2 separate regions of the Homo sapiens genome follow, and region 1 is linked to region 2. The links come from fine-mapping of genetic effects on gene expression. A gene starts in region 2. The other region holds a variant in brackets. All regions are shown on one strand. Distances are from middle to middle. Region 1 overlaps GOT1-DT (GOT1 divergent transcript). Region 2 holds the start of CNNM1 (cyclin and CBS domain divalent metal cation transport mediator 1).

What was found.
Region 1: its variant is fine-mapped to the expression of CNNM1 in nucleus accumbens (GTEx, PIP 0.97).

Annotation. Positions count from the first base shown.
Region 1 is chr10:99,456,307-99,464,678 of GRCh38, reverse strand. It overlaps GOT1-DT (GOT1 divergent transcript), which reads right to left. Exons shown (of 5, transcript NR_183993.1): 5 at 2,846-4,070. Among named protein-coding and RNA genes, the nearest start is that of GOT1-DT, 30 kb to the right of the region's middle. The variant A/G (reference allele first, on the strand shown) is at 4,376.
Region 2 is chr10:99,324,256-99,332,627 of GRCh38, reverse strand. CNNM1 (cyclin and CBS domain divalent metal cation transport mediator 1) reads right to left here and starts at 3,272. Exons shown (of 11, transcript NM_020348.3): 1 at 1,668-3,272. The coding sequence starts at 3,240.

The DNA.
Region 1 (8,372 bases), 130 kb before region 2:
AATGGCTATTACTTAAAATGCAAGAGTTCACTGGCAAGGGAAACTCAGATAGAAATAAATGGTAGGCCCGGCTGGGCATGGTGGCTCACGCCTGTATTCCCAGCACTTGGGAGGTGGAGGTGTGTGGATCACCTAAGGTCAGGAGCAAGACAAGCCTGGCCAACGTGGTGAATCTCTGTCTCTACTAAAAATACAAAAATTAGCTGGACGAGGGTTGGCACTCCTGTAGTCCCAGATACTCAGGAGGCTGAGGCAAGATAATTGCTTGAACCCGAGAGGCAGAGGTTGCAGTGAGCCAAGATCATGCCACTACACTCCAGCCTGGGTGACAGAGTGAGATTCCATCTAAAAAAAAAAAAAAAAAAGAAATGGTAGGTCCTAAAGAAACCCTGGAAAAATAGAAAGAAATTCCAAAAATATGTAATCATTATGTCTTTTATGGTTGTTGTGTAGCTTTATGTTGAAGCACAGTAGGACATGACCAAAATGAAACAAACACCCTATGGGCCTACCCACTTAGAAAGCCTGGTTGCCTAAAGAGCCGACAAGGCAAATCGATGGCTTTTGGACACCAGCTGGGCCTTTCATCTATGAGGGCCTGCTTTCCGGCAAACTGAAAACACCAAAGTAGTCAAATAAATGAAAAGCTTAAATGCAGTGTATGTACACAGTCCATAAACCCTTTAGAATTCTGCAACAAAAAGACAATTATTTAATAGAAGCTGTTTGTTATTTTTTTCAAAAAAGTCTCAAGTAATTGCATACTGAAATAGAAATAGGCATTTTGAAATAAACTCATGGTGTGTTCATCCAAATCTGAAGCCCCTAAAAATTTCAGAATTACTGGGTAGGATTTGAAGCAGTTACATTAAGATTGATGTCATATTTCATTAGAACATTGATTCCCAGGCTCTTAATCACCAGGAGTCTCTTTATTACCATTGTTCTCTTCAAGCAGTCACTTATCTTAGGTCATCACTGTGTATTCAAGTCCACAATTGCTCATGGGTTCAATTGGCATCCTGGACTGTCAGGTGGACCAATAACATTCCGGAAATTTCTGTGACTTCAACAAATGTCAATCATAGCGACTAGCATGATACGCCATTAGTGAATGGAGTAGATACTGTTCTGCTCAAAAGGAAAGAACCTTGACAACCCTATCATAGGGAAGGAGTTGGGCCTTCATATTATCAAAAATAAGATATAAGTCATTATTACTAAGTTTGTAAATGCCTCACGAGTCAAGACCCCAAGGATGGAAACGCCTACATTTGAGATTTTTCTGAAAACCTTCCAGCTTTCAATAATTGTGACTTTTTTTTTTTTTTTTTTTTAATTTAAGACGGAGTCTCACTCTGTTCCCCAGGCTGGAATACTGCAGTGGCACGATCTTGGCTCACTGCGACCTCCACCTCCCAGGTTCATACGATTCTCCTGCCTCAGCCTCCCAAGTAGCTGGGATTATAGGTTGCCATCACGCGCAGCTAATTTTTGTATTTTTAGTAGAGATAGGATTTCACCATGTTGGCCAGGCTGGTCTCGAACTCCTGACCTCAAGTGATCTGCTCTCCTTGGCCTCCCAAAGTGCTGGGATTACAGGCCTGAGCCACCGTGCCCGTCCAACACTTTTCTGAGTTGACTCATCTTGAGCCTGTCAACCAAGGACAGCTAGTGATGCCACAAATGTGGCTGTTCTCACTTCCCTGTCTGTGCAGACATCTCCAACCCATCTATATTCTTTCCCATTGAGTGATTCTTCTCAATGTAATGTTCTAAGCAACCAATGAACCAGAGCTGTTACTGCAGATGGAAGTCACTTGCCTTCCTGTATCCCAGGTGATTTGTCCATAAGGCAAGTATGAGGGATACAGGCTCAGATTCTCTTAAGTAGGGAAACTTGAGATGCCATGATAAGGGTGGAAGATACAGACATGAAGGGAACGAAGGGATATAGAGGTCACCTCAAGAATAAGAATCTGGCCAAGCACGGTGGCTCATGCCTGTAATCCTAGCATTTTAGGAGGCCGAGGTAGGTGGATCATTTGAGGTCACGAGTTCGAGACCAGCTTGGTCAACATGGTGAAACCCCATCTCTACTAAAAATACAAAAATCAGCCGAGAGTGGTGGTACACACCTGTAATCTCAGCTACTAGGGAGGCTAAGGCAGGAGAATCACTTGAACCCAGGAGGTGGAAGTTGCAGTGAGCAGAAATCACACCACTGCACTCCATCCTGGCAACAGAGCTAGACTTTATCTCAAATAAATAAGAATCTGACTTCTCTTCCACGCCTATTGACAAGTGACTATAAATCCTTATTCTTTTTGCCTCCTGTGCTCTTCCATGCACAGATACAAGGGTTGAACAAAAAGGTATCAGAGTGAATAGGAAAGGTTAGTCCAAGAACAAATTAAAGGAAACTTCCAAAGTATTCTTGGGAAAATACCCTACACAACAAAAAGGCCAGAGCTTCCTGTTCTCCCAAGTCCTTTTTCTCACATTAACTACTTGGAGCTTGATGCTTCTATGAGAAAGGGAGAGAAGGTGTTGGTGTCATCCTTTCTTTCACTCATGACGAAAGAGAAGCTTAAAGATGATGAGTGATTTTTCAAGATCAAGACTAGGAAAGCATGGTATTGGAAAAGAACTTAGATTTAAAACTCTAAGTCCAGTCCTCTTTCTGATGTACATGTGCTTCTCATATTGGGGTGTGAACATCTCAGGGCAAGCATGGTGGGACTAGGAAATTATTTCAAAGATTTGAGATAAAATGGCCCTTCTCAAAGGTTTTTAGGGAGACATTTTGATATAAAAAATATAAAGGCACATGATGAAGTAGAATACAGAAACTGCATAACTTTTTATGACAAAATACAAGATTTCAAAGATATTGGCACAAATGGTAATGGCTTTTCTGGCTGTACCCTGAGACGTCCTGATGGTGTGCTTTCATTGTTCTCTGCTGTTCTGGTGGAGATGAGAAGTACTATTCTTCACCACAGCGCCTCACTTCTTTCCCTCTTCTCCTCCTCTTCCTCCTCTTTGTTGCTCTTCTTCTTCATGTTTTTAGTTGATATTGCCACTCTCTCAGCACTCCAATGACAGCTTGTTTGCAAGATCATTTCAGAGGCATGATGCTGCTGTCAGGACTGCAGTTGTGGGAGGAGCTGACTCTTCCAGGGGTGATGCGGACAGGGTTGGGAAGAGACTGAGTCACACTCTAGGCTGAGTCACCTTCACTGGGTAAGTGTGGACCTGCAGTTGAACCACTCTGCTGGTGGCATGTACCCTAATATGCCTGTATCAGCGTATTAGTCAGATTGGGCTGCTGTAACAAAATACCATAAACTAGGTAGCTTAAACAATGAAAATGTGTCTTTTTTGCAGTTCTGGAGGCTGCACATCTGAGATCAGGGTGTCAGCATGGTCAAGTTCTGGTAAGGGCTCTCTTCCTGGCTTGCAGATGGCTGCCTTCTTGCTGTGTTCTTACGTGGCAGAGAGAGAGAAAGAGAGGCTTTCTAGTACCACTTTTTATAAGGATACTATTCTCATCTTGAAGGTCCCATCCTCATGACCACATCTAAATCTAATTATCTCCCAAAGTTCCAGTCTCCAAATACTATCACGTTGGGGGTTAAGGCTTCAGCATATGGATTGGCAGAGAGTGGAGGAGAACAATTAAGTACATAGTAATCAGTGAGGGTGATTTAAATTGTAAGTAACGGAAGACCCAACTCAAAGAAACTTCAACAATGACAGGCATCTGTTGGCCCAGGAAACTGGAGGCACGTTAGGGTGGCTGTCAGGAACAGTTGATGCTGAACAGCCTGAACCATGGAGTTCTGGTGTCCATAGCACTGCCTTCATCCTAAGACTGCTTATTCTTTCAGTGTCGAATGTCTGAGACTTCATGCTTCCTAGTTCACTTCCAGTGAACATGTCTTCTAAGTTGAAATTATGTCAGGGCCTCATTCCCACATCAATTACTGTGGCCAGTTAAACCAATCAAAGTTTTTTTCTGGGAGCTGAAGAATCAACCCATTCAAATTCCATAGCTACTTCATAATCTGAGAAAGAAAGGAACAGAGATGGTAGGAGATGATTATGTTGCCCATTACAGTTTTCTCTTTAAAATTGTCCACTTTAAAAAGTTGACTGTGTCTGGTGCATGGTAAGTTCTCAGTAAATATAAGTAGTCTAACTTATATCCTGCCTGTGTATTAGGAGTTATTGTGAATGTCCAGGGAAGGGGTAATAATGATATGGACCCTACGGAAAGCATAAAGGGAAATGCTGTCAACACCTCTCTGAACTCTTACGTTGTGGCAACACAAAGAAATTCAAGAGAGAGGCAGAAGTCTGTGGCCCCAGA[A/G]GCTGCATTTGGGGTTTCACTGGGATCACATTGCATCTGTATGCACTTCCTCTTCTACATCTGGGGAGAGCCATTTTCATTATGGAAATTGGCATTGGTTCAAGCCAGCCTGGTAGGATCTGAATTTTCTCTTTACTTAAAACATTCGCCTGAGGTCAGGAGTTTAAGACCAGCCTGGGCAACATGGTGAAACCCCGTCTCTACTAAAAATGCAAAAATTTAGCTGGACGTGGTGGTGCATGCCTGTAGTCCCAGCTACTCGGGAGGCTGAAGCAGGAGCATTGCTTGAACCCGAGAAGTGGAAATTGCAATGAGCCAAGATGGCGCCACTGCACTCCAGCCCAGGCGACAGAGCGAGACTCCATCTCAAAAAAAAAAAAAAAAGAAAAAAGAAAAAACATTTACTATGACTTATATCCATACATCACATTGTAAATGACTTTGGAATATATCTAGTTAACAAGCTGGGAGTCCATTATGCTAAGTGAAATAAGTCAGTCACAAAAAGACAAATACTGTGTGCTTCCACTTATATGAGGTACATAGGGTAGTCAAATTCATAGAGACAGAAAGTAGAATGGTGGTTGTCAGGGAGTAGGGGAAGGTAGGAATGGGGAGTTAGTGTTTAATGGATACAGAGGTTTCAGTTTTGCAAGATGAAAGGCGTTCTGGAGATGGATGGTGGTGATGGTTGCACAGCATTGTGAATGTACTTAACGCCACTGAACCCTACATGTAAAAGTGGTTAAGACAGTAAACTTATGTGATAAATATTTTACTATAATTGTTTTAAAATTAGGAGTCACGTGTGGGATTTCCATTTTTACCTTTTACCATCATTTTTTTAAAAGCTCTTTTCTATTGCTACTTTAATCATCTTACTTGTACAGTCAGCAAAAAAGATGATTTGTTTTTCCACCCCAGGCACCAAGATTTCTTTTTTAAGGTTAAATTTAGACCTTCTAGTGAGGTACTCTAGATTATTTTCTAGATTTACTATGTATTACTTTTCTTCTAAAATTTTCCTTTCCATTTTTGCCCTCTCTGATAGTGGAATTGTTTTGCAGCTCATTTTTCTCCTTTTTCTTTTCCCAAAATTGACTAACTTTAGTGGCTATTAGAGTTACTGTCATTATACATTTTCTTGGGAGGATCAGAACAACCCAGCCAAGTTTTGGGTAAGATATAGCAAAAGCCAAATTCTCCCATGTATTGTGGCTGCAGCCTGAGTGTCACATCCTTCGCCAGGTGCTCAACTGTCACCTACTTTGCCAGGTCCCTTATAAACATGACTTCATTAGCTTGTCACAGCTTCCCTGTGAGGTGTGTGTCTCATTGTCATTATACACCAGGACACTCAGCAAGGTTGAGTAACTTGTTCAAATCTCACAGCTGGTATCCTTGGCCCTGAAGCTTGATAAGGTTGTTTTTTTTTTTTTGTTTTGTTTTGTCTGTTTGTTTTTGAGACAGAGTTTTGCTCTGTTGCCCAGACTGGAGTGCAGTGGCGAAATCTCAGCTCACTGCAACCTCTGCCTCCCGGGTTCAAGTGATTCTCCTGTCTCAGCCTCCCAAGTAGCTGGGACTACAGGCGCGTGCCACCATGCCCCGCTAATTTTTGTATTTTTTTAGTAGAGATGGGGTTTCACCATATTGGTCAGGCTGGTCTTGAACTCCTGACTTTGTAATCCGCCCGCCTTGGCCTCCCAAAGTGCTGGGATTACAGGTGTGAGCCACCGCACCCGGCCAGATCTTTCTTTTTATACTCCACTGCCTCCATCCAGTCTTTGCCTCCTATCAAGGCATTAGGATAGCTCCATCTCTGACCTCCTGGGGCACTGTCTGCCTTTGCAGGGGAGTGAAAAAGCCTGCTGGGAAGAGCTGGTAGTAGAATCCCCTGTAGTAAGAGATGGTTATCCTGGCTTTAGAATTGCCTCCCACCTTATCCTCCCTCCATCTGCCCAGTTCCTCCAGGTTCCCCTAGTTCTCCAGCTGCTGTCACCACATCTAAACCAAAGGACACTTTGATCCTCTCTTGGAGCCAACATGGGTGTAGACAAACCCCCTTATTCTCTGTGTTCAGCAGAAACAAGGATAGCACTTTTCACAAGTAAAGGAACATTTTCTAAGAAAGAAGACAAGACCAAGCTGCAACCAGAAAAGACAAAAGCATCCGAGTAGATGTACTGACAGTGGATGTACTGCTTCTCTTTGTAATTTAACTGCAGTCCTTCCAGAGTGGCTAAGAGTTTTTTTTTTTCCCATAAGTTATTGGAATACACGTGGTATTTGGTTACATGAGACATTCTTTAGTGGTGATTTGTGAGATCCTGGTGCACCCATCACCCAAGCAGTATATACTGCACCATATTTCTTGTCTTTTATCCCTCACTGCCTTCCCACTCTTCCCCACAAGTCCCCAAAGTCCACTGATTTAGCTGCAGTTTTACTTCTCAGTCCCCTCAAGGGGAAGCAGAATCCCAATTCTTTCTTCCTTCCTGGGGCAACAATAGGTCTGAGTGGCCGGTGGACCGCTGCCCCTCAGGAGATAACGTTCACATTTCTCCAGGGTTAAGGTTACATGACCAATTTCCACACGTGGAACTTAGTGTCCTCCTCTCCTGACAAGGGGATGAGGAAACTGACATACTGAGAGGAACTTGACAGGAGTTTAATTCTCAAGACCACTCCCACAAAGAAGATATTGTAAAGAAGAGTTAAGAGTGTGTTCAAATTCCAGCACTGCCCACTGCTAGCAGTGAGACTTCAAGGTAGGCAAACTGTTCAGCCCTTTAAAGTCCCACTTTCCCCATGTAGGGGCTCAGGGAGAATTGAAGAGGTTTGTACACACAGTGCTCAAAAAAACCCCAAAACATTCAATGTTATTAACGACCCTGGGAACTGGGTGTCAATACTCCACTTTTACAATTAAGGTAGGTCGGCTGAGGTCAAGGCCCACGTTCTTTCTATTTCCCCATTGCTGCGGCCCTCATCTGAGCACTTGTTCTCATACTGCCTTGCACCATTACCAGACTCTGCATTTGTGGAGGCCATAATAACCCTAAGTAAATAACTGCTTTTGAATTAAATGCATGAATGCCTGTGTTAGTAAAAGGAGAGGAAATGATTTGAATTTGAGAGACAGCAAAAGTACTTATACCAGAGGCGAATAGATTAATTCATTTAGACAGTTAATATTTACTGAGTATTCACAGGGTACCCAGCCCTATACATGCTGATTCCACAATTTTGGATGCCTGGAGGGCATGGGGAAGGTAGGGCGGGGTGACTGGAAGAATGGGGAAGTTGGTATAAAAAAGTCTGAATTATAATTAATATCCTTCTTTTCAGATAATTATAATCTTCAAGTTGGGTTGAAAAAGTATTGTTGGATTAAGTAAAAAAAGATAATATCATTTGCGATGGCTATATTAGTCATTATTATGGGAAAACATTTCTGCCTCTTCTATCCCCAAATCCTAGTTCATGAATACTTTGCATACTCTCACAAAGCTAGTAATTTTAATTGTAAATTAGTATAGAGTCCAAGTGAAGTTTTTTATTAGACTGTTCCTATGGGCAGAAAGTGACACCATGCCTAGGATCAGGGGACAAGATGCCGGAGAGCAGGACTTCCTGTCTTGAAGATGGCATATGATCCCTGACTTGGTCATTTATTTAATTTAAGAACAGGACAAGTAGCACAGGTGGGAATCCCAAAGGTCACAGGCATCTGCAGTCAGTTTGGGGTAACATTGCCATTGCTACAAAGGCTTGATGCAGTCAGGGTCCTGGATAGATTGGTGAAGTGAGGGGAAGACATGGAGGATTCCAGGGCTGAGAATCCCTCAGTGTGGGCATCTGCAGGTTCAGACAGGTAAGAGAACAGACAGGTTAAAGCAGGTTGGATCACAGATGACACGGTGAGAAAGGACCCATAGGAGCATGAGTTCTTGAAAGTAGTGTTAAAATCAGAGTGAGATGAATCTGGGGACCTCAG
Region 2 (8,372 bases):
TTGTATTCAAAGTTCTAAAGATTATTTATGATGTTAAAGTAGTGAGATTGAATTTTCCCTTCCCTCCCTCCCTCCCTCCTTCCCTTCCTCTCTCTCTCTTTCTTTCTTTTTTGAGACAGGGTCTTGCTCTGTTACCCAGGCTAGAGTTCAGTGGCACAGTCATAGCTCACTGCAGCCTCGGGCTCAAATTATCATGACATTAAATTTTTGACAAAAAATTTATACAAAATGCAGTTAAATGAGAGTACTGCTAGCCATTAGGAAGCTATATCTGAAGGCTGAATCTGAAGTCAAGGGATTGATTTTTTTGGTTTTTGTTTTTAATAAACATTCCAACTCATATCAGATGAATGCCTCCTTCAAAGGAGTCATTCTGGGAAGTTCTACACTTATTCTAATTATGTCCCTGTTTTCAAATTATGATGTCTGGTGTTGCTTTCAGGGTTTGTGAGATAGTCTTTTGAATGCTCTCAGTGTTGACTCTTGAAAGTAGATTTGATTTTAAAAAACAATCAAGGGTTCTGGGCCAAATCTGGTGAACTAGGGGGGCGGTCAAACTGTGTAATGCCAAGAGGGGTGACTCTAATGTATCCAGGCTGATTTTTCTTGAGTGAATTTGTAGTCACCAGAAGGCACTTTCTGAAGACAAACTCAGACATGAAGTAAACATGTTATAAGCATGACATCAAGCTTGAGTTTGGGGAGGAGAGTTGGAAGATGGTGACTGCGCTGAAGGAAACCCCACTCATTTGGGTATGCAAGTTTTCTAGGATCTCCTCTACCCAGAATATTTCTTCAGGTCCAGATCTATCCTATTTCACAGGACCACAGTTCCCAGACTTACAAGGATCCTACTGCCTTAGTCAACTTTTAACCCCCAACCTGAGTACTTCCCTCCCCCCCGGGCAAAGACAGGGTCTTGCTCTTTTGTACAGTGGTGGGATTACAGCTCATTGCAGCTTTGAACTCCTGGGCTCGAGTAATCCTCCCGCCTCAGCTTCCCAAAGTGCTGGGATTAGAAGCATGAGCCGCCGCGCCCGGCCCTGGACCTGAGTACTTGATATGTGTGCAATCAATACCTGATGGGAAATTAAGTATGGGGAAGAACGTCTAAGGTGTCTGGGTTTAGTCTACATGATTCAAAAGGCAGAAGAGGTAGAAGGATTTGGAGACACAAATTCTGCTCTATATGAGGAAACATTGTCAGCCACTGGAGCTGTCCAGCAATGGAATTAGTTTGCTCTGTAAATAGTGAGCTTTCGGCCCTGGGAGGAGTTTAAAGCAAAGGCTGCTTGTATGGGAACCTGCAGAGGTGTCTCCTGTAATAGGTGGGGAGCTATGCAATGACCTTCAAGGGCTATCTCCCACCTACACAGTATCTGACATTTGGTAGGCCTTGGAAAAACCTGGTAGAATGGAACAAATAAGGAATATGGTGCATCTTGTGAATCAAGTAGAGAGGAAAGAGGCCTGGGGCTCAATCAGGAGCAAGAAGTGAGGCAGAAGTGAGATGAAAATAGCCAGGGAGCCAAGAGGTAGAGTCTTCCTTGGGTTTTTAGTACCATAGGAGAGAAATTGCTTTGGGTACCTAGAGCCTCACGTGGTTAGGAAAGGATAATACCTTTGAAGGGGATAGGAGTTGGGGGAGAAGATAGACTACTGCTCACCCTTCTTAAACTCCTCCAGAACCGTGTCCAGTCGGGTGTCATTGAAAACACAATGCAGGGGCCGGTTGTAGAAGCGGGTGACAGTGAGGAGCGGGGTGCAGTCGTCGGGGTCCACGAAGGCCAAGTCCTTGACAAATAAAATGTCCACAATGTTGTGCCGCTGGTCACCCTCGTACACTGGGATGCGAGTGTAGCCGCTGCGCAGGATCTCGGAGACAGTGGCGAAGTCGAGCACCGCGTCTGAGCGCAGCATGAAGCAGTCTCCCAGGGGGGTCAGCACCTCCTCCACAACTTTGGTGCGCAGCTCCAGGGCACCCTGTATGATGTTGAGCTCCTCCTTCACCAGGTCACTGTAGGGGTCTGCGGCCCGCAACGTCTCCAGCAACTTCTCCCGCGTGTAGAAGGTGCTTATCTCCTGGCGCAGCGCCCAGTCCAGCAGGCGGCCCAGCGGGTAGCACACGGGGAAGGCGGCTGCCATCAGAAGCCGGGTCAGGCACACGCTGTGCGAGGCGATGGCCAGCCCGTGCCGCGAACACACTGAGTAGGGGCAGATTTCGGCGCCCAGGAATACCGCGCCGGTGCACACGAGCGCCGGCAGCCACGGGAAGTGGATCCCCTCTTCGCTGTAGTCTTCCCCGGTGCCCCCGAAGCCCGGCGGCAGCGAGGTGTACAGCCAGCCAGCCAGGGCCGCGTTGGCTCCGGCTTGGCCCAGGAGTAGGGTGCAGAGCAGATGGGTCCCCCTGCCGCGAACGGCCTGCACGCGGCGCGCCTGCTCCTGCTCGGCGGCCGAGCCGCTGTTCCGCAGCACCCGTAACTCCACCGGGTCCAGCGACAGCAGGCTCAGGCGCAGGCCGCTGAACAGGGCCGACAAGGCTAGCAGCAGGAGCGCCCCGAGCGCCCGCAGCCACGCAGGGGGCAGCAGGTCCCCGCCTGGGCCGTACAACCGCGGGCGAACGCGCAGCAGGAAGCCGCCGGCGGCGCCGTGGTGGTGCCACGCGCGCCCATCCCAGGCGCAGAGTGAAAAGAGCTTCCCGCCACCGCCCGCGCCGCCCCGCTCCGCTTCGCCCTTGCGCAGCTCCCGCACTCGCACCTGGACCAGGGCCGAGCCTGCCACGCCCCCGGGACGCAAGGGCCCCAGGACTTCCACGTCCGATGCCCAGTCGCTCTGCTCCCTGCAGCGCTGCGGTCCCGGGGGGCGAGTGGGGACCGCGCTGGGGGCCACGCCGCCACCGCCCGGGGGCTCCTCGATGAACACGAGCCGCGGAGCCCAGTCGCCGGTGCCATTCTCCCCCGAGTTGAGGGTCGGTGAGGGCACCGGTGCGGCGGTGGCCGGCGGTCCTGGCTGGAAATAGACACGCAGGAGGAAGCTGGTGCCTTCGGCGGCGCGCAGGGTGCCCCCCTCCAGGGACACGCGGCCTCCAGCAGTGTCCTCGGGCCGCAGGCCCAGCAGCCAGGCGGCGGCGGCCGGGGGCCGAGGAGACAGGGAAAAGAAGAGCAGGAGCACAGCGCCTCGGCTGCAGCAGTCCCGGAGCCTGACACCCACCGCTGCTGCCGCCGCCGCGGCCGCCGCCATCCTGCACCCAGCGCAGCTGCACGTGATACTGCAGGAAGCCGAGCGAGAGCTGGAGGGAGGAGGAGCCGGAGCTGGGAACCCAGCCGCAGGCAGGTCACCACGTGTACGCCCACTGCGCGCGTGGGCTGGTGGCGGTGGGCATTCAGACTCCACCTGGGCAGGAGGTCCCCGCTGGAGGCTGGAGGTGGCCAGGCATCACCGCACTGTGCGTAGCGGGTACACACTTCGGTATATCTGAGATGCAGCCTGAAAAGTCTGGGTTTGCAGCATGGCCTCCTACTCCAAAAGTAAGGTGCTCCTCTGCGAACTCCTACCCGGCAGTAATTCCCTGCCGGCTCCACTGCTTCCCCATTGGCCCGGGAAATTTCCCAGCTTTTCGCTTCTCCTGCCACTTGCATTCCCCCTTCTGGTCAAAAGAATATTCTGGAGTCAAGTCTTGAATATGTGAAAACTTTTAGCCTCAACTCCAGCCGACCTTTCATTATTGTAAACATTTCTGGATTATTTAAGTTCAATTCTTAGTTAAGATCCGAATGTCCATCAATAAGAAACTGTTGAAATAAGTGAAACCACTGTGCAATGGAATACTATGCGGCAATAAAAAATAATGCGGTGGATCTGTTGTATATGTGATACGGAAAAAAATCTCCAAAGTAATTGTAGAAACAAAGTAAGGTGCAGAACAGCAAGTATAATATGCTACCATTTGTGTTAAAAGTATTTATGTATAAATTTGTACACACACACACACTTATATGAGATTTATTTATTTATTTATTTATTTTGAGATGGAGTCTTGCTCTGTCGCCCAGGGTGGAGTGCAGTGGCACAATTTTGGCTCACTGCAACCTCCACCTCCCGGGTTCAAGCGATTCTCCTACCTCAGCCTCCTGAGTAGCTGGGATTACAGGCGTGCGCCACCGCGCCCAGCTAATTTTTATATTTTTAGTAGAGATGGGGTCTCACCATGTTGGCCAAGCTGGTCTCGAATCCCTGACTTCAAATGATCCATCTGCCTCGGCCTCCCAGGGTGCTGGGATTACAGGCGTGAGCCACCGCGACCCGCCGTTTACATCTTTTAATTAATTTATTTATTTTGAGACGGAGTTTCGCTCTTGTCACCCAGGCTGACGTGCAATGGCGCGATCTCGGCTGACTGCAACCTCCGCTTTCCAGGTTCAAGCGATTCTCCTACCTCAGCCTCCTGAGTAGCTGGGATTACAGGCGCCCGCCATCACGCCCGGCTAATTTTTTTTTTTTTTTTTTTTGGTAGAGACGGGGTTTCACCACGTTGGCCAGGCTGGTCTCGAACTCCTGACCTCAGGTGATCCGCCTGCCTCGGCCTCGCAAAGTGCTGGGATTACAGGCATGAGCCACCGTGCCTGGCGGGTTACATCTTAATTATAGTACAATATCAAAAGCAGGAAGTTGATATTGGTGTAATGTGTGTATATAGTTCTCTATCATTTTATCACATGTATGGATGTATGTGACCATCACTGCACTCAAAATACAGATCTATTATCACCAAGATCTGGGAGGGAGACTTTCTTATTAAATTCCTTATATTGTTTGAATTTACTCGACTATATTATTTTTATGCATTTATTTTTAAACTTTATATAGTAAAATTCACTTTTTGGTGTACTGTTCTATGAATGTTGACAAATGCATATACATGTAAACATCACAATAAAAAGTAATTCCATCACCACCACCCCCCAAATTCTCTTACCGTCCTATTGTATGTAGTCAACCCCTCCCTTCGTCTTATCCTCTGGGAACTACTGATCTGTTCTCCCCTATAGTTTTCTTTTCCGGATTATCATATAAATGGAGAATACAGTCTGTAGCCTTTTGGGTTCTCCCTTCCTTTACTAAGTTAGCATAATGCATTTACGATTCATCTATGTTGTTGTGATTTTCAGTAGTTCATCCTTTTGTATGGCTGAGTAGCATTCCATTATATGGATGTGTCACTGTTTGTTTATCCATTCAATAAAGGATATTTAAGTTATTTCCAGTTTTTAGCAATTATTAATAAAGTGGCTATGAACATTTGTGTGATGGTTTTTGTGAGAACATAAATTTTTATTTCTCTTGGGTAAATTTATCATAAGTCTGTATTACATTTTAAAATATAGTAATCCTAACTACTTGGTAGGCTGAAGTGGGAGGATCTCTTGAGGCCAGGAGTTAGAGACCAGCCGGAACAATGTAGGGAGGCCCTGTCTCTAAAAAATTAAAAATTAAAAAAAATTAGCCAGGCATGGCGACACATGCCTGTAGTTTCATCTACTTGGGAGGCTGCAGCAAGAGGATCACTTGAGCCCAGGAATTCGAAGCTGCAGTGAGCTATAATCGCATCACTGCACTCCAGCCTGGGCAACAGCATGAAACCTTGTCTCTAAAAATAATTAATAAATTAAAAAGGAAGAGTTATTTTACATACCACCCTTGGCACCTGGGTTTAGTGTAAAATCATCCCTATGTGTGAAATCTCATTTTCCGTGGCATTTGTGACATGCCATTGTCTCAGAATACACTAGATCCTGTCCACTATAAGCTGCTTTTTGCATGGGCTACTTAAGAGACAGAAGGGAGGTTTAATCTTATGAGGGAACATTGAGGCATTTATTCGAAGTATAAGGGAAGGAGAGAACTGGGGTCAACCATATGATTGTTTTTCTTCCTTTCTTTCTTTCTTTTTTTTTTTTTATTGAGACGGAGTCATGCTCTGTCACCCAGGCCGGAGTGCAGTGACGCGATCTTGGCTCACTGCAACCTCCACCTCCTGGGTTCAAGCAATCCTCCTGTCTCAGCCTCCCAAGTAGCTGGGATTACAAGAGTGTGCCACCACACCTGGCAAATTTTTGTGTTTTTAGTAGAGATGGGGTTTCACCATGTTGGCCAGGCTGGTCTCAAACTCCTGACTTCAGGTGATCCACCTGCCTCGGCCTCCCAAAGTGCTGGGATTACAGGCGTGAGCCACCCGCCCAGCTGATTGTTTTTCTTAAGTGCAAAAAAGCGCTTACTTCTCTCCTGACACTTAGACTTCTTTCCCTTCCCAACCTAAACTCCTCAGCACAAAGATACCCGCTATCCTAAGGGCTTTCCCAGCTCTTTTAGACCACAGAACATTATCATCATTACAATACCACGTAACATCTTTAACAAGCTTTAAAGTTATGAAGGAATTTCTTATTTATTATTCCATATACACAAGAGCCCTGGGAAGTAGGTATAATTATACCCATTTTACAGATCAGGTTAAATGACTGGTAAAACTTCTTTGGACCCTAGCTTGATGCTTCCTTTATCTGGTAGAGCTGACGGAAATAAAATGTTTAAAAAATATTAGAGCAGGAATTAAAAAACTGAAATTTCTGGTTATAAAGTATTACATGCTTATTAACAAAAATTTTAATGCAGAAGAACATAAATAAAAATACACCATGACCCACCAACTAGAGATAAACACTGTTAACATTTTTTATACTACTTTTTACATTTTCTACATAGATAAGTAATGGAGAAATACATGCACACACACACACACACACGTGCTCTCCATATAGTTACATATTTTATAATTAAATATGTATTATACATAATTCTAGTCAGCTCCTGCTACTTAACACATCAAGGGCTTTTTCCCCAATGTAATAAAAATCATTCATAAATGTCATTTAAATAAATCAAATATATATGTATTACATATGTATTGAGAAAGAGAGAGAACTGTAAGAATGAGCCTATTCCCAATTGCACCAGCTCTATTATTAACAAATGTTAGGCTTGGAAAATCAATCTACTTTTCTGGGCTCATTTCCTCATTCGTGAAATGACAGTTTTAAGCTCCCTACCCTTTCATGAGTCAGTGAGTAAGGGCTAATGTACACTGTGTGAAGATAATCTAGAGAGACTGAGTACTTTTCCTTTTACTGAATAGGAGGTTCTGGAAAAGTACTGGGTTTCCAGAGCTCTGCTGTAACTGAAAGGATTCCTGGGGACAGGTTCAGGCAGTGTGATTCTCCTAAGGAAGAGCTGCCAAAAATAGCTCCCCAGAATCTGAATGTTTACTGTCTTCTTAGCTTACAAGATGGGCACTTCCTCGCTTCTCAGAGAGATGGAGGAAATAATACTTACTTTTAATATCATGACTATACTATTTCAGAATGTACATGTTAAAATGCTTTTGTTTATTTCATTTCTTGTTCATCCATTCCATAAATATTTGTTAATCATCAAAGTGCCAGGCCTTGTGCTAGATATTGGGCATATCTGACACCATCTTTGTCATCTTGGAGCTTAGATTCTCCTGAGGAAGACAGACATAAACCGGAAATTACCTACCTGCCTAATTAATTAATTATTGCCATGAAGGAGCTGTTCAAAGTGCCCTGAGGGTGCATGGGACCCATCATCTAGGGAAGAGGGTCTGGGAACTCTATCCACAAAAATTAGATGTTATAAAAATGGAAGAATTTATACATTAGGAAGAACATAAAATTATTAAATTTTGTATCTTCTATTCCTTTTTTGTACTTTAAAACTATGACAGTATATTAGTAATATTCCTAATAATGTAATCTGTTAGCTTTTTTTTTTTTTTTTTGAGGCAGGGTCTTGCTCCATCGCCCAGGCTGCAGTGCAGTGGCGTGATCTCCACTCACTGCAACCTTTGCCTCTGGGTTCAAGCGATTTTTGTGCCTCAGCTTCCTGAGTAGCTGGGATTACAGAAGCACGCCACCACTCCTGGCTAATTTTTGTATTTTTAGTAGAGATGGGGTTTCGCCATGTTGGCCAGGCTGGTCTCGAACTCCTGACCTCAAGTGATCTGCCCACCTCGGCCTCCCAAAGTGCTAGGTTACAGGCATGAGCCACCGTGCCTGGCCTGTTAGCATTTATTGAGTGTTTGCCATGTGCCAAGTACATTATCCCTCTTAATTCTCACAATAGATGAGAAAATTGAGGCTCAGATTAGGTGACTTTGTGAAAGTCACATGATTAATGGCTAGTGAAGCTCAATGGGACACATAGTTTGAGTCCAAGGTCTACAGTTCCAAAAGTTAGGAAAACGATAATACCAGGTAACCTTTACAAAAGGCCACTATGTTTCATGCATAAAT